2 separate regions of the Homo sapiens genome follow, and region 2 is linked to region 1. The links come from fine-mapping of genetic effects on plasma protein levels. A gene starts in region 1. The other region holds a variant in brackets. All regions are shown on one strand. Distances are between the middles of the regions.

What was found. PIP is the chance, under the fine-mapping model, that this variant and not a neighbour inherited with it causes the effect. Protein levels are from antibody-based Olink assays in UK Biobank. Linkage for the fine-mapping came from a reference panel and not from the study's own genotypes, which makes the PIPs less certain.
Region 2: its variant is fine-mapped to the plasma level of the MARCO protein (UK Biobank, PIP above 0.99).

What each region holds. Positions count from the first base shown.
Region 1 is chr2:118,937,175-118,945,507 of GRCh38, reverse strand. It overlaps MARCO (macrophage receptor with collagenous structure), which reads right to left and starts at 3,314. Exons shown (of 17, transcript NM_006770.4): 1 at 3,111-3,314. The coding sequence starts at 3,207.
Region 2 is chr2:118,989,809-118,998,141 of GRCh38, reverse strand. It overlaps MARCO (macrophage receptor with collagenous structure), which reads right to left. Exons shown (of 17, transcript NM_006770.4): 13 at 7,509-7,553; 14 at 6,267-6,365; 15 at 5,666-5,710; 16 at 4,842-5,018; 17 at 3,482-3,755. The coding sequence ends at 3,622. It overlaps LOC124906072 (a long non-coding RNA gene), which reads left to right and starts at 4,824. Exons shown (of 3, transcript XR_007087213.1): 1 at 4,824-5,071; 2 at 6,976-7,054; 3 at 7,656-7,935. RefSeq lists an enhancer at 4,546-5,745. The variant T/C (reference allele first, on the strand shown) is at 3,500.

The DNA of each region.
Region 1 (8,333 bases):
CCGGGAGATGGAGGTTGCACTGAGCCGAGATCGCTCCCCTGCACTCCAGCATGGGTGACAGAGCGAGACTCCATCTCAAAAAAGAAAAAAAAAAAAAAAAAAAGAAACAAGAGGTTCCGACAGATCACATTGCACAGCCTAACAAGTGCTTGTCTTGTTAGGCTGTGGTAACAGTAGTCTTCCTTGAGAAACCAGACGGCCAGGAGTGTGACAGGAAGCCTAAAGCCAGACACAGATTGCTAATTTTCAAAAAGGTAGAAACAGACACATCCCAGAAAGATATTGCCAACAGGTAAATCCTCTCGTTCAAGCCCAAATGTTCCATTGTTGAGGTGGATGATGGGGCAAAAGAGCAGTTTCTATGGCTCTGAGGAGAGACCTGGGATTCTGTGAGACCCTGAGGGCCACAGAAGCCAACCCTATGTCAAGTCCCCTCAGGAAACTAAAGCAGTCTTTGTGGTGGTTATTCATCCATGGATACATATATCAAATCATCACGTGTACATCATAAATATATACAGTTTGTATTGTTAATCACACTCCTAAAAAGCTAGAATAAAAAATAAAGAAAAGAAAGAGTACCTTAATTCTAGTGCAGATAATGGAATGAAGGAGGCTTGTTCTAATGAGGGAGGCTGGAGGTGATGGCAGGAAAGAGGGATGCAAGTTGCACTGTGCTTCTAGAGGGTACAGTGTGAAATTTACACTCCTCATCCTTTTTTTAAGATTAATTTTAGAAAAAATGAAGGTTATATTCCAAAAGTTTCCCAAACTCACTTCTAAAATTTTCTTCAGCATGTGTTGAAAACTTTCCTAGTCCAGTATCCTTGGGTAATAATAATAAAAAAAAACTAGTTTAATACTTTATAATCAGGGAAAAACAGCATTTTATATTTCAATACCAACAATAGAGAAAAATAAATGAGGAAAATGACATTAGAAATATTTTTCAGTGCTGTTTTTCATGAACCATATGTGGGAATTTTAAGATAATGTATTTTCAAAAGAAAATAAAACTATATATGGCCTAAATAAATAAATCTTCAGCAGACAAAAAATAAGTAATGTGCAGAGCCGGCCCTGAGGGGTCACTGTGTTACCAGAGCCTCACAGTGATTACCTGCATAATGGCACTCTTCTAGAAAGTTTCATATGTTCCACAATCTTTGTATTAGAAGGCAGGATGTTGTGAATGCATATAAGAAAATGTTTCTTTCATCCAAATTGGAGTAGTTTTGGTTTTTTGGTGAGATACTTTAAACATTTTATTTATTTATTTATTGGTGGAGATAGGGTCTCACTATGTTGCCCAGGTTGGTCTCAAATTCCTGGGCTCAAGGAATCCTCCTGCACTGGCTTAGTTACATTTTTAATTGGTGACACACACAACCCAGGTCAGAAATCTAGGGTTCACTATTAACTCCTGCGTCTTCCTCCCCAGCCCTGTCCTGCCATTGCAGTCCAATTGATCTGATTTCCGGTGTTTCTCCAGAGCATTCCTTTATTTTCCTGCCTTCCATCCACTGCCCCTCATCATCTCTTGCTGCCAAGTTCCTCTCTGTCCTCAGCTTCTCTCTCCAGCCATCCCTATGTAGGACAAAGAGCAACCTCACATGCACATTAGTGCCTTTCAGCCCCACATCGGCCCCTTCCTGCTTCCCCACTGACCTCAGGATGAAGTCAAATTTTTTGGTTCCAGCCTCAGTCCCCACTGGTCTTTCCGTCCCAATTTTGGCCAAACAGTATGGAAGTATTTATATTTCTCTGAATATTTCTTGTGAATACAATACAAACATGTGGCGCCCACCCCGCCCCAGGCACTAACTTCTTTCTCTAACGGACTCCCTTTATCCTTTAAACTTTGGAAGAGGTGTCAGCTCTGCCCTCCAGGGCTCTACACCTGGTTAGATCTGTCCATCATGTCCTGTGGAAGTCTCAGTCACAACATGGAAATTGTCAGTTCATGGGCAGCTTACCCTGTCCCCTGTCCCCTCGTGCCAGAAGCCAGAGGCCAGAGGCTATGTTTATTCAAGCCTGTTTCCTCAGTGCTGAGTGCAGTGCCCTGCTGGAAATAGGTGCTGAGTATGCTTGATCAGCTGACTTTGCTTGAACATCTTCAGTCTCTTAAACAGTCATGTATCCAGAATGTTGCATTCTGAGAAGTTCTAAATAGCCAATGATTATTATAGCCATTAGCACTCACACCTTTCTCTGTTATTACACTGTAAATTCCTAGAGGCAGAGCCCCAGACGCTTCATCTTTGTGCGCTGAAAATTCCAGGCAGGGACCTGGGCAGACAGGTGTGGGATGAGAAGGACACTCTGGCCAGGAGATAAAGCCACCAATTTTCCTGCATAGACAACTTCCAGCAAAGCCTGGGAGTGGAAATGACTGATCAACTTGGAAGATGATCCCAAGAGAACGTTCTAGACTAGGAAATCAGAGCTCATTTGTGGAATGCAAGCCCACCCATGACTTCAAATGCTACAAATTCTAGAAGATTTTAAAAATGCATCACCTGTTGAATGCTGAGTGAGAAAATAAAGACAACAGAGTTGACTGAATATTACAGACCTGAGTTTAACCTAAGACAAACTAATTATGAAGCTATGAACATATTTCAGTCAACATGAAATACAGAATATGTTTCCTGACCAGCACATCAGTTATAACAGAAATCCCCTTAAAGAATTTTAAAGAAGCTGTGTTTTGAAAACTGTCATGCTTGGCTTCAGTTTTGTGGTCCCCTTTCAGTGCCCCTGTTTTGCGTTTTCATTGTATCACCCAACCTGTGTGTCAGAATAAGACATTCATTAAAAAAAGGGGACATTTAATAAGCATTGGCATTTTTTCAAGGGAAAATATTTAAATATGATTAAAACAATAGTGAAGCTAAGAAAAACCTGACTATATGCTAAAAATACAGCATCTATTATTAGCATTCCAGAAATTCCAAATTGAAGCACTCCAGACAGTATTAGTGATGATTACGTGCAAAATGCAGCAATAAGCCAAACCTAGACTTTCTATTGACTTGTCTATTTTCGTATCTCGCTAGCAGAAAGACTACATTTCTGGTCATTTCCATTATTGGGGAATCGTACTTTACCATTGATTTCGAAAGGCTCCATTGCAATTTGGTGAAAAGCAGCTTGTTGGGTCTCACTCAAGAGCTCGTCCTCCTTGAGAATTTTCTTATTTCTCATTGCCAAGCTTTATAGATGGCCAAAGTCCTGGAGCCAGCAGAAATGCTCCCCTCAAGAGGAACCACTTGGAGAAAGATCCTTCCCATCGAACCACTGCAGCTGGTTGTAAACCTCGCAGCACTTCCCTTTGGCTCTGATTTCAGAATTTGCAGGATGTTTCCTGACATGATCAGGATTGGACATTTCTCAAACACGGGCTATTCACATGTGGATCTCCCACACAGTGCTGCTGCTTGTTAAGGGGGATCGAGGAGGCTTTGGGACACAAGTTACGGGCCTCTGAATGCACCCGTCACTCCCAGGTCCCTGAGACCCAAAAGCTGGATGGCTCCAGAGAGGGCCAACCAAGCCCTGCCATGGGCCCAGACTCAGCTCTCTGTCCCAGGACCTCTCCAGCCCACAGTGAAATCTCCCTTCTCTGACCTGCCTCAACCTTTAGAGTTCATCCTTGCTGCTCAAAGTGTGGTCCATGGACCAGCAGTATTAGTATCACCTGAGAACTTGTTAGAAATGCAAGTTCACTTGTTCTAACAATGAGTCTCTGGTCCCACCCCATCAGATCAAATCCAAATCTACAGTTTAACTAGATCCCCAGGTGATTTATATACACATTACAGTTTGAGAAGCCTTGCTCTGAACCACACATTTTAGCACTTAGTATTTCTTCTTGTAGTTTTCCCATGTTCTCTCTCTGTGTGTGTACACATGTGTGCACATGTGTACATGTGTTACAGGTGTCCTTGTCCAGGCCCCAGTGAGATCTGAGCTCCTTAAGGAAAGTAGCTTCTCCCCTCTCTCCCTCCCGTCAGGCATCTCTACCAGGGATGCTGTATAGCATGGTGGTTAAGACACAGACACTAAGAGCTAGAATGCCTGGCTTCAAATTCCACCTCTTCCACATAGGGGCTGTCTGGCAGTAGGCAAATCACTTGAGCTTTGAGCATCTCACTCTTCTGTTTGTATAAATAAGGAAGATATGAATTTCGTGAGCCTTAAATGAATTAAATCATATAAGGTGGCTAGGATGGAAGTATTAGGTAATAAACACTATGGTCATGTTGTTGTTATTATCATTAGAGACATTGTGAGCCTGCTGGGCACCGAGGAGATGAAGAAATGGCCTTTTTTCATGAAAGATATTCACAGTCTACCATGCAAGATGGTTGCGGCTACAACTACATTCCAGAAAATTGCTGTGAAGTGCGGCAAAGGTTGATGTCCCTGAAAAGACAGAAGTGCCGGGAGGCAGGGGAGACAGGGCAGAAATATGACAAATAGCTTTATCATCTGAATCAAGAGATATCAGATACCAGAGCTGGGCTTAAAAGGATAATGGGGGATTGATCCAGATCAAGATGAGGCAAAGGCCCTCCAGGGAGGAAGGAGGGCAGGTGCAGCCTCTCAGAGGTGGGACAGCCTGGAGCAGGGGAGCCGTAGACTTTTGGCCTATTTGAAATGTAAGAGGTGAGGAAGACAGGTGGCAGGAAGTGAAGCTGTGCCAGGCGAAGTCACTTTCTTTGGCCCGTGGTATGTCAGAAAGTGAAAGGGGATGAAACTCAGGAAAGTGAGCTCCTAGCAGTGCCCTGAAAAGCAGAGGTCCCCCGTGGCGCCCACAATTTCAACATTCAGGAAGTCACTGGTTCCGCCAGAGGACAAGCAGCAGAAGCCAGGACAGAAAAATTTAAAGAGGAAAATTGGAAATGAGGAAGTGATGGCTCCAGCTAGAGTCTGGGGGGTAGACAGGACCAGATAATTGAGGACACAGGGGATTTGCCCACTGGAGGGCAGTCCCCTAGGCAAAGGAACCCGCTCACTTAGCCTGGCAGAGCTCCCTGCTCTCCCTCTGCCTCTGCCTGGTCAGCTCATCTTTGATTCTCATGGGTGTGGGGAGGGGACTTATTAGAAAATGTCATGGGCTAATTATTGAGGATCCCTGTTCTTAAAGGAAGCACTTAGTGGATGTCAAGTGTAGTCACTTCACCTCTGGCTAGAGACCAGAGAGACTTGGGTCCCAAATTCAACTCTTTCATTAACTTTCTGTGTGACCTTGGTTGACTTACTTCTCTGAACTTCCACACAGAGTAATGGCTTGTGCAAGCATTAATTCCTATCCAGGATTTACTGTTAATGCCAGACACTGTGCTAAACATTTGCATACATTGCTCAACACTCATAACTTGCAACTTGCCTTAAATTGTGTGGTTATAAAGAGCTACACCAGAATTTGAATCCAGACTCTCTGCCTCAATCTATAGACTGATTTAATTCTGGTTTAATCCAGGGGTTCCAATCCAGAGGTTTGCAGTAGAGGAATGCCAGTTTCCCATCCCAAACCTGAGGCTCTGGTTTTAATAAAAATTTCAGAAAGAGCTCTAATGTGCACCAGGCTTAGGACCACCGAGTGGTATAATTGAAGCACTCATGTGCAGTGTGGCCTCCTGACTCCATCCTAGGAGGATCCATTAGGTTGAATCATATGGAATGACAGATATTTATCTGTTTTTCATATGCAATAAATGGATACTTTATATGACTCAAGCTAATCCATTCACCTTGCAGGGCCTGAGACTCAGGGATTAGGATGAAGCAAATAATTCACTAGCCTTGAGTACAAAAGATTCAATAATCAAGATAAATAATATTTTAGTGCAATATATTTAAAAAATCAAAGTTAATGCAAAAATTCTGCGATGAACAAAATATCATCATTTTAAAGGAAGACAGAATCCCACTTTGCACGTACAATGACCCTCCTCATTTGCTTACCCTAGTCCTGGCCCTCTCATTAGCTCTGTGTTTCAGCATCCCCATTACAAAATGGGATGCCCAGAGTTGCCGTGTTTACCCATAGAGTGGATGTGTGGATCAAATAAAATAATAAATGAGTAAGTACATTTGTAAACAAAAGTTCTATATGCAGAATAGCATTTTATATCAAAAGAGCGTGTCATACGAAACTCCTGCACTGTCAATGAATCCCTTAAAAATCCTTTAAATCTTCTATAAATACAAAACACACAATTTAGGAAATATGGTACAGTCTCTTCTGAAGTCTTACTCAGACACTTTTATCTCCAGGAACACAGATCCAGCAGTTTCTTCCCAGGTGAAGTTGCATTTGGAGACAAGTTGTCCAAGAAATGCAGGGTCTGGCTTTATTTGTCTAGCAGCATGCATATAATTGGATTGGAGTATTTAAATGTGCATTTGGGGAGGGCTCAATGCCCAATGTAGTTACATCAAGTTCTGATATTCTCTGAAGTGATGGTCAAGTGGCTCCCAGTGCTTTATCACACAGGAGTGGTGGGGCTGGAGTTCCAGGCAAGTGTGACCACTCTTGATGGTCTCCATGGAGCTTGATTTCCTATCAGCTGGTGGGTTCCAAATTAGTTCAGTCAGTGGGCTGCCTGGCAGATCACCAAGAAGAACCCTTGAGCAACCCAATTCCAGCTTAAAACTGGGGCAACCAAGTTAACGCATGATATAAAAATTACCGGCACAAACCCATGTGTCCGAAACCAACCAACCAATCCACAGCAGACAGGTGAACCGAGCCTTGGGGACCTCTCTGGAGTCCCTTCCACACATCTGCTCAGTCATCTGCCTATGCCCACCAGCGGAAGGGATGGAGAGACTGGACTGAAGGGAATGTATCAGAGAGAAACATTTAAAAGTTCTATCTATTGACTTCATTTTTCCTGCCAGTTGTGAGTGCCCAGGCTTACGTAAGTTCCTGGTAGTTAATGAAGCTCAAGAAGTGTTGATCATTTAAAAATTAGAGAAAATTAACAACACAAATGACCGTGAACAGGCGAATGAATTGTGTCCTATCTATGCAATGGAATACTAGTCTGCAGTAAAATGAAATATGCCACATGAATGAATCTCAGAACCCATTATGCTGAGCAAAAGAAGCTAGACTTCAGACAGGACATACGGTATGATCCCATTTATACAGGCTTCTAGAACAAGCAAAACTCATTCAAAGGGTCAGCAAACAGAGCCATTGGGTCCTGGGGTGGGAGTAAGGGGGACTCTACCAGAGTGGAGCACAAAGGAAACTTCTAAGGAAATGAAAGTTTTCTGTATCTTGTTTGGGGTGTTAGTTACAAAAGTCACTAAACTTTACACTTGAAGTATGTGCATTTTATGGCATGTAAATCATGCCTCAATAAAGTTAATTAAAACAGAAGTTAAAGGACAAAAAGGAATTATTGTTGTTGAACCTTGGCCCAACTCACAGAGGTTTGTCTTTTGAGAGCTATTGGAATGAGGTGACAGTGCCAGCCTCCCAGTAACAGGTGTGGACTGGCCACCCACACTTTTTCTTGCCTGATGAGGATCCTTACACATGCTAGTGTGGCAGGTCAATTCTCCCTGACAACCACACAGACAAGCAGGCATGACCGTCACACAGACAGGCCTGCATAGCACCCTAGTTACACAGACAAATTTCCACAGAGCTGCCTTAACATTGAGCAAATAGTTAAGCCTAGGGAAATAATGCCTAGACATCAAAGCTAGAAATGAAACATGGTCAGTAGGAGCCTTGCATAGTCTTCTCCCTAACCTAGAGCAAACAAAATAATAGAGACAGTCTTACATTCCTAGTGCCAGCACTTCGTCTCAGGTTGACAAAATTTTAGATGAGTAAAGGTAACAGAGGCAGTGTTTGAATAGATTCATTGGAGAGCCTAAGGTAGCTCTCTGGACCAAGCTGTAAAGGAGATAACATAGAAATAATCACTCCGGTACCACAGTAGACAGGCCTTGAAGGTACTGGGGCCCTTTTCGTTGGACTTAGCAAGCATTTTTTGCCTCTGACCTTATAGCTGAAACAAAATTAGTTACCAATAGACTTAAGTGAATGCGATACTGCATGTAGGCACATAACACCAACTATATGAGCACTAAGAAAATGGTAACACTCTGGGTTTGTCTGGTGGAATTATCTCTGGCCTTCTCCCTGAATCCGGTTACAGCAATAAATTCCCTTCTTTCCCAGTTTGTCTGCTTCTCATTATTGGGCCTTGAGAAAACGTAGCCAGACCCAGCTTGGTTCTGGGAACACTGGGATTGCAGAATCCGGACTGCAAACTCCGCCGTGAGTACAGAGGAAAGAAAAG
Region 2 (8,333 bases), 53 kb before region 1:
ACCTCTATACAAATAAACTAGAAAATCTAGAAGAAATGGATAAATTCCTGGACACATACACCCTCCCAAGACTAAACCAGGAAGAAGTTGAATCTCTGAATAGTCCAATAACAGGCTCTGAATTTGAGGCAATAATTAATAGCTTACCAACCAAAAAAAGTCCAGGACCAGATGGATTCACAGCTGAATTCTACCAGAGGTACAAGGAGGAGCTGGTACCATTCCTTCTGAAACTATTCCAATCAATAGAAAAAGAGGGAATCCTCCCTAACTCATTTTATGAGGCCATCGTCATCCTGATAACAAAGCCTGGCAGAGACACAACAAAAAAAGAGAATTTTAGACCAATATCCCTGATGAACATTGATGCAAAAATCCTCAGTAAAATACTGGCAAACCGAATCCAGCAGCACATCAAAAAGCTTATCCACCATGATGAAGTGGGCTTCATCCCTGGGATGCAAGGCTGGTTCAACATATGCAAATCAATTAACGTAATCCAGCATATAAACAGAACCAATGACAAAAACCACACGATTATCTCAATATCTCAATAGATGCAGAAAAGGCCTTCGACAAAATTCAAGAACCCCTCATGGTAAAAACTCTCGATAAATTAGGTATCAATGGGATGTATCTCAAAATAATAAGAGCTATCTATGACAAACCCACAGCCAATATCATACTGAATGGGCAAAAACTGGAAGCATTCCCTTTGAAAACTGGCACAAGACAGGGTTGCCCTCTCTCACCACTCCTATTCAACATAGTGTTGGAAATTCTGGCCAGGTCAATCAGGCAGGTGAAGGAAATAAAGGGTATTCAAATAGGAAAAGAGGAAGTCAAATTGTCCCTGTTTGCAGACGACATGATTGTATATCTAGAAAACCCCATTGTCTCAGCCCAAAATCTCCTTAAGCTGATAAGCAACTTCAGCAAAGTCTCAGGATAAAAAATCAATGTACAAAAATCACAAGCATTCTTATACACCAATAACAAACAAACAGAGAGCCAAATCATGAGTGAACTCCCATTCAGAATTGCTTCAAAGAGAATAAAATACCTAGGAATCCAACTTACAAGGGATGTGAAGGACCTCTTCAAGGAGAACTACAAACCACTGCTCAAGGAAATAAAAGAGGATACAAACAAATGGAAGAACATTCCATGCTCATGGTTAGGAAGAATCAATATCATGAAAATAGCCATACTGCCCAAGGTAATTTATAGATTCAATGCCATCCCCATCAAGCTACCAATGACTTTCTTCACAGAATTGGGAAAAACTACTTTAAAGTTCATGTGGAACCAAAAAAGAGCCCGCATTGTCAAGTCAATCCTAAGCCAAAAGAACAAAGTTGGAGGCATCACGCTACCTGACTTCAAACTATACTGCAAGGCTACAGTAACCAAAACAGCATGGTACTGGTACCAAAACAGAGATATAGACCAATGGAACAGAACAGAGCCCTCAGAAATAATGCTGCGTATCTACAACTATCTGATCTTTGACAAACCTGAGAAAAACAAGCAATGGGGAAAGGATTCTCTATTAATAAATTTTGCTGGGAAAACTGGCTAGCCATATGTAGAAAGCTGAAACTGGATCCCTTCTTTATACCTTATACAAAAATCAATTCAAGATGGATTAAAGACTTAAACGTTAGACCTAAAACCATAAAAACCCTAGAAGAAAACCTAGGCAATACCATTCAGGACATAGGCATGGGCAAGGACTTCATGTCTAAAACACCAAAAGCAACGGCAACAAAAGCCAAAATTGACAAATGGCATCTAATTAAACTAAAGAGCTTCTGCACAGCAAAAGAAACTACCATCATAGTGAACTGGCAAGCTACAGAATGGGAGAAAATTTCTGCAATCTAACCATCTGACAAAGGGCTAGTATCCAGAATCTACAATGAACTCAAATTTACAAGAAAAAAACAAACAACCCCATCAAAAAGTAGGTAAAGGATATGAACAGACACTTCTCAAAAGAAGACATTTATGCAGCCAAAAGACACATGAAAAAATGCTCATCATCACTGGCCATCAGAGAAATGCAAATCAAAACCACAGTGAGATACTATCTCACACCAGTTAGAATGGCGATCATTAAAAAGTCAGGAAACAACAGGTGCTGGAGAGGATGTGGAGAATTAGGAACACTTTTACACTGTTGGTGGGACTGTAAACTAGTTCAACCATTGTGGAAGTCAGTGTGGTGATTCCTCAGGGATCTAGAACTAGAAATACCATTTGACCCAGCCATCCCATTACTGGGTATATACCCAAAGGATTATAAATCATGCTGCTATAAAGACACATGCACACATATGTTTATTGTGGCATTATTCACAACAGCAAAGACTTGGAACCAACCCAAATGTGCAACAACAATAGACTGGATTAAGAAAATGTGGCACATATACACCATGGAATACTACACATCCATAAAAAAGGATGAGTTCATGTCCTTTGTAGGGACATGGATGAAGCTGGAAACCATCATTCTCAGCAAACTATTGCAAGGACAAAAAACCAAACACCACATGTCCTCACTCATATGTGGGAATTGAACAATGAGAACACATGGACACAGGAAGGGGAACATCACACACCAGGGGCTGTTGTGGGGTGGGGGGAGGGGGGAGGGATAGCATTAGGAGATATACCTAATGCTAAATGATGAGTTAATGGGTGCAGCACACCAACATGGCACATGTATACATATGTAACAAACCTGCACGTTGTGCACATGTACCCTAAAACTTAAAAAAAAAAACAAGCTGATACCTAGTGTTCTTTGTTCTTTCAGTAGATGGTTAGTGAGTTGTTGCCACAAGAAGGGACACAGGAGAGGCTCAGGAAAACGAAGCCTTTTATACCTACAGGTCCTAGAGTGACAGTCACTGCATGCCAAGAAGGGGTCACATCCTCCCCACCCTTTAAGGTCCAGTTCAAATTGTGCTTTCTTCAGAAAACTTTTTTGATTACTGTCACTCCAGATAAATATTTCCATTCTGTAAATCCCACCCATGTATGGAAGGAAAGATCAATGAGACTCTAAGACTGATTTCAGGCTTACTATGTGGTTTGCAACATGGAGAGTGGGCTTAGCCCAGCAGGCAGGGCGCTGAGAGAGAGCAAGGACCGGTTGGGCAGGTGGAGTCAGGGTGGAGCACACAGCATAGGGCATGAAGAGAGTTCATGTGTGTGCTGGAATGTTACCAGGTCACTGTCAGGGGAGGACAAAAAGGGGGATAGAGAGCTCACCATGAGAGATGTTATGTCTGAATGACTGAAGAGATGGTCAAGACTAAGGTTGACCATAGGTGACCTTCACCTTCTGCCTCACCACCTCCAACCTCTCCTTCCCCTGGCTACGGACATGAGAGAATTCAATGAAATGTTGTGGTGCATGGAGTGGGCACATCAATGGGGATGGGAGGTATGAACACAGTGACACTCAGCCACAGCCAATGATGTTGAGCTT[T/C]ATTAATGGCCCCTCTCCAGAGGCTGCTCAGTTGTCCCCAGGGAACTCCTCAGAGATCCTCTGCCTTCCCACATATGAGCCCGAGGACACCTCGGGAGCAGAGAAGTGAAAGGGTTTCCGGGTCAGACGCTGCACTCCACGCCTGCGTCCTCCTCGTGGCTGCAGTCATGATGGCCCCAGCTATTCTTGGTGCAGCTCCACAGGGTACTCTCCGTGCCCCGACACTGAACATTATCCAGCCAGATCTGCCCAGTGCCTTGATAGAGAGAAAGCAAGAGACAGAGGAAGAAGGGTAGGATTAGAGTCAAAGCAAAGAAGCCACGTGTGCGCCTGGGAGCTTCCATCTGAGGTGGACTGCCGACTTCTCACTCATTCTGGCCCATTCCGGCCCAATGTGCTGATGGCTGGCTTAGCCTGTTTTTGTTGTTGTTGTTGTTGTTGTTGTTGTTTTTATAATGACTTTGCCTCCGTTCTATTCTCTACCCTTTGACAAAAGTCTCATGCAAATCTTTAATGCTTAAACCCCACACTATTTGAAATATCTTCCTAGGCGGGTGTCCTTTAGTTTCCTCCCTGCAAATTCACTCCTGCTGCGTCCACCTGCCTCACATGCCTCTGTAATCAAGCCATCGCCCTGCTCTAAAGTGGGCATTTGCTTTGGTTTGGGTAAGGACAGGGAGCACTTGGGGCTGGGAGCAAGGGAAACTGGCCTCATGTCCTGCTGGGCCAGATCCTATAGCCAGAGAAAAGGGTTCTGCCTGGGGACTTAACTTCTTTGCTCAAGGCTTGAACTTTTGGCTGAAAGATATAGGCTGAGTCTCCAGCATCCGAAGACATTTTCCACACATTTTAGTAAGTCCCTGCTCTGATTTGCTTTCTCTTCCCTTCCCATCTTCTCTTTAAAGATGATCACAGCCAAGACTGCTTGCTGGTCAATCCAGGCTGCTGGTTCACAGACAGCTGGAGTGAACATCTGCGTTTGCCTGCCCTGAATCTTCTCTCTGTTCTTCCAGTTGCATCAACTCAGCTGTCCTTTGGAGAGCCATCTGCGGCAAACACCCTCAGCCATGTGGCATTCTGACTCCAGGGCTGGATGGACCTTGACCGAAGCCAGGCCAGCCTTCACTGTCAGCGCTGGAGAAGACAGGCCATCTTTCTGCTGGGGTTGCCAAGCTGGAAGGATGCATACCTGGAGCCCTGCACTGCAGAGCTTTTTGGTTGCTTGGACCAATATTTTTCTTTTAAAGAAAACCACACTGAGTCACTTGCCAACACCCCACCAGCGAGAGAAAGCCACATCCACACCTCTGGGGAAGAGGCCCCCGGCTGATGACTCACTTACCAGCTCCCACTTTGTACAGGGCCCTTCCTTTGGAGTAACCCAGCATGCGGCAGAAGACAATGGCATCAGAATTTTGCCACTCGTCATCGCAAATTGTCCCCCAGGTACCACTGTAGTAAACTTCAGCCCGGCCTCGGTTACTACTGCCGACAATCCTGACGGACACTGAGTTTTCACCTGGGTGAAGAAACACACATGGGAGAGGCAAGGAAGGCCCCTTGGGGCTTTGGGTAAGTGCGGGCTCTTTCTTTTCATTTTGGAGTTCTACAGTTAAGGAAAAGAAATGCCCCTGCTTGACTGTCACCAGAGCCTGGAAGATCCCACTTTACAGTGCCAACCCAACCTGGCACGCAGCCTCCATGCACCTGGGGCCTGCAGGCACAAGGCCACAGGGGCAGGTGCCCCTGTGGCTGGTTTGCAAATCGCATACACCACGTCTTGTCATGTGTTGTGGAGAGAAAAAAAGGAAAGCTGAGAAAAGAGAAGGAAGGAAGGAAAGAATGGAGAGAGAGAGGGAAAGGAAGGAGGGATGGAGAGGAAAGAAAGAAGGGAAAGGGGAGGAAGGGAGGGAGGGAGAGAGAAAAGGAAAGGAAGAAGGAGAAAGGGGGAAGGAAGGGAGAGAAGGAAGGAAGGGAGAGAGTGGCTGGGGAGAGAAACTGCTGCTCTGTGCCGTGGGCAGGCTCATTCAAGGGACTAGACCCTCAACTCCTCCCCAAAATGAGAAATTTATTTGAGAACCAAGGTCTCTTCCCCCAACACACACAATTTTCAGGTGCAGAATTGACTTTAAAGCACACATTAAAGATAATATAAATAGTGATTACCTCTTTCACCTTTTTCTCCCTTTACTCCTTGCTCCCCAGAAGATCCTGTCATGAGGAGAAAACCCACACGGTTTGAAAGAAACCCAGGCAGGACGCCTTTGCCTGCATTTGCATGAGTGGGGAGCGGGTGGAGGGTTGGGAGTGGTCAGATGCTCCGTGGGTCTCGCCTGTGGCCTGGCATTATGGGGATGGGATGTCCTGCGGGTGTCAATGACTGAGCAGGAAGAAACGGGCCTGAGCTACAGCAAGAGGGGTTGAAGTTAGATTGGTGAGGGATGCTTGGTCTGGTCAGAGATATGGAGTGGGATGGGCTCATCTCCTTCATGGAAACTGCCTAGGAGTGTTGGGTCGTGGGGCATGGCTCAAGTGCATGTTCACGCCCCTGCCTTGGATGCTAGAGCTGCGCCTAACCCGCTGCTGTGTGCTCCATGCCTAGGGCAAGCCCCAGCACAAGACTTGTCAATCAAGGAAATAAACCTCTACCCTCCTGGGTTCTGAAAATCCCCAGAACTCTTAAAACAGCGCCTTTCCTATTTTAAGGTACAGAACTGGCTGTAAAGCACAGTCCTAAGAACAAAGGAATCAGATGCAGAGGCCTTACCTTTCACTCCCTGGTCTCCCTTCTGGCCAGCTTGTCCAGGGGCTCCCTTGGGACCTGCCAGCCCTGGGCTCCCCTGTTCTCCCTTCACACCTGCAGGGCCTGGAAGGAGAGACACTGCCCTGATCAGGTGCCCTGCTTTGCCTTCCCAAGAGAGACCCAAGGGCATTACTGTTTAATAAATGAGTTATCCTTAACTGCCAGACCTCCCCCATGGCTGGGCTATCTGAATGTTCAGCCTGTCTTTGGTCCATCTGGGGGCTGCACTGATCTCTCAACTCTTAGGTAAATGCTGTCGAGAACAGGCAGGCTAAAATAGCTGGTGGTATTCCACAGATTCTTGGTCCTTCTGGAATTACATAGTTATGTGGAAGTTCTAGCCATGCTGGGAGAATTTGCTAGAATGTTTCTAAGCCTCGATGTCTCCTTTAGTGAATTGAAATAGTAACAGAGGCCGAGTACAGTGGCTTACTCCTGTAATCCCAAGCTTTGGGAGACGAAGGTGGGAGGATCACTTGATCCCGGGAGGCCAAGGCTACAGTGAGCTATCCTGTCCTGGCACCACTGCATTCGGGCCTGGGTGACACAGAGAATTTGTCTCTAAAAAAATTGAAAAAAAAAAAAACCATAAAACATAATAGAATATCTAGCTTATGAGGAAGAAAACTTGCTCAAGAAATGTGTCTGAAAAATCTCACTTTTGCACTCACAGGGGCAGGGCTCTTGAGAGGCCTAGAAACACCGTCCAGCTGGTGCCAGCTCAGTACCCAACTGAAGCACAGGCTCTGGAGGTGAGGATAAGAATAAGAAAGCCCAGTGACAGGCAGCAGGAGGCAGAGAGGAGAAGCTTGGGGGCCAAGAAGAGACAAGTGGGCCACAGCTGAGGTGGGGAAGCAGCAGCCGTGGATGGAGCAGAAGGGGCACAGCTCCATGGCGGCTGTAGAGCCTGGAGCCTCTGCCTGCACCCCCAGCTCTCCTGACATTTTTCCCCTTTGCCATCCTCAGCCCCTTTGCCATCCTCAGCCCCTGCCCCATACGCTACACCCCTCAGGATGTTGAGTTCCTGTGGTTCCCAGGTTTTGCAGCGGAGAAATCTGAGGCTTGAGTGACAGAGCCCTGGAGTCTTAACCTCCACTTTGGGAGAAGGTCACAGCTGTGCATTCAATGTCAACAAGACCTGCCCTCTGAGAAGGCAGGCCTTCCCCGTCATCACTCCGAGGGATGAAGATGCAGCCTGCCCTTTACCTGGAACTCCTGATTCTCCTTTTCTTCCTTGCTGTCCTTGAAGTCCTAAGATCAAAACAAAAAAGGGGGGGGGGAGGAGATAATAAAACTTAGGTATTAGACATTTTTAATCTTAGACAACCTCTACCTTTTGTCTGATTAATGCAGATGGAAAGATACATTGGTTCTCCACGATTGTTTAAAGCCTCTTCAGCAGATCATGAAAAGAGACAGTCTGCAGATGAATGAGAACAGGTGTGTTGGGGGTGAAACGGCAAAGTACTGGATGAAAGCCTGGATTAGACAGACCCCAGATGCACCACTGGCCTTCCCTGCCCCCCGGTAACCTGACCTGGCATCTAAATCCAATCCCATTCCCTGCTGTTGCATTTATATTGGAAGAGAATTGGGAGATATTTGGTAAATAAAGTTATCTTTATTGCTAAAAGACTGTGGAGGGGCTCAGTGGCCACCAGGAGCTTTGGAGGTCCTCCTGCATAGTAGATGCTCTTCAAGTATTTGTTGGTTTTTTTCATTGTGGCTCCCAGTGGCTAAAGATTCATGTGGCTAAAGGGTCTAATGTCCAGAAAATGGAAAAATAATAACCACAGTCATTGATGATGATCCTATTGTAGTTAATGTTAAAGGTCCCCCTTTCTTCCTTCTTTCCATCCATTCATCCTTTTTTTTCAGTAAACTTTCATGGAAGGCCCACTGTCCCCAGCATCCTGCTGGGTCACTGAGATAATAATTTGTTCATTTAGCAAGATCATGTCCTCTTGATTTTAAGTGCCAATATTTATTTTATTTCAGAGAAATAGGACTCCTCAAGGCAGTTACACAAAC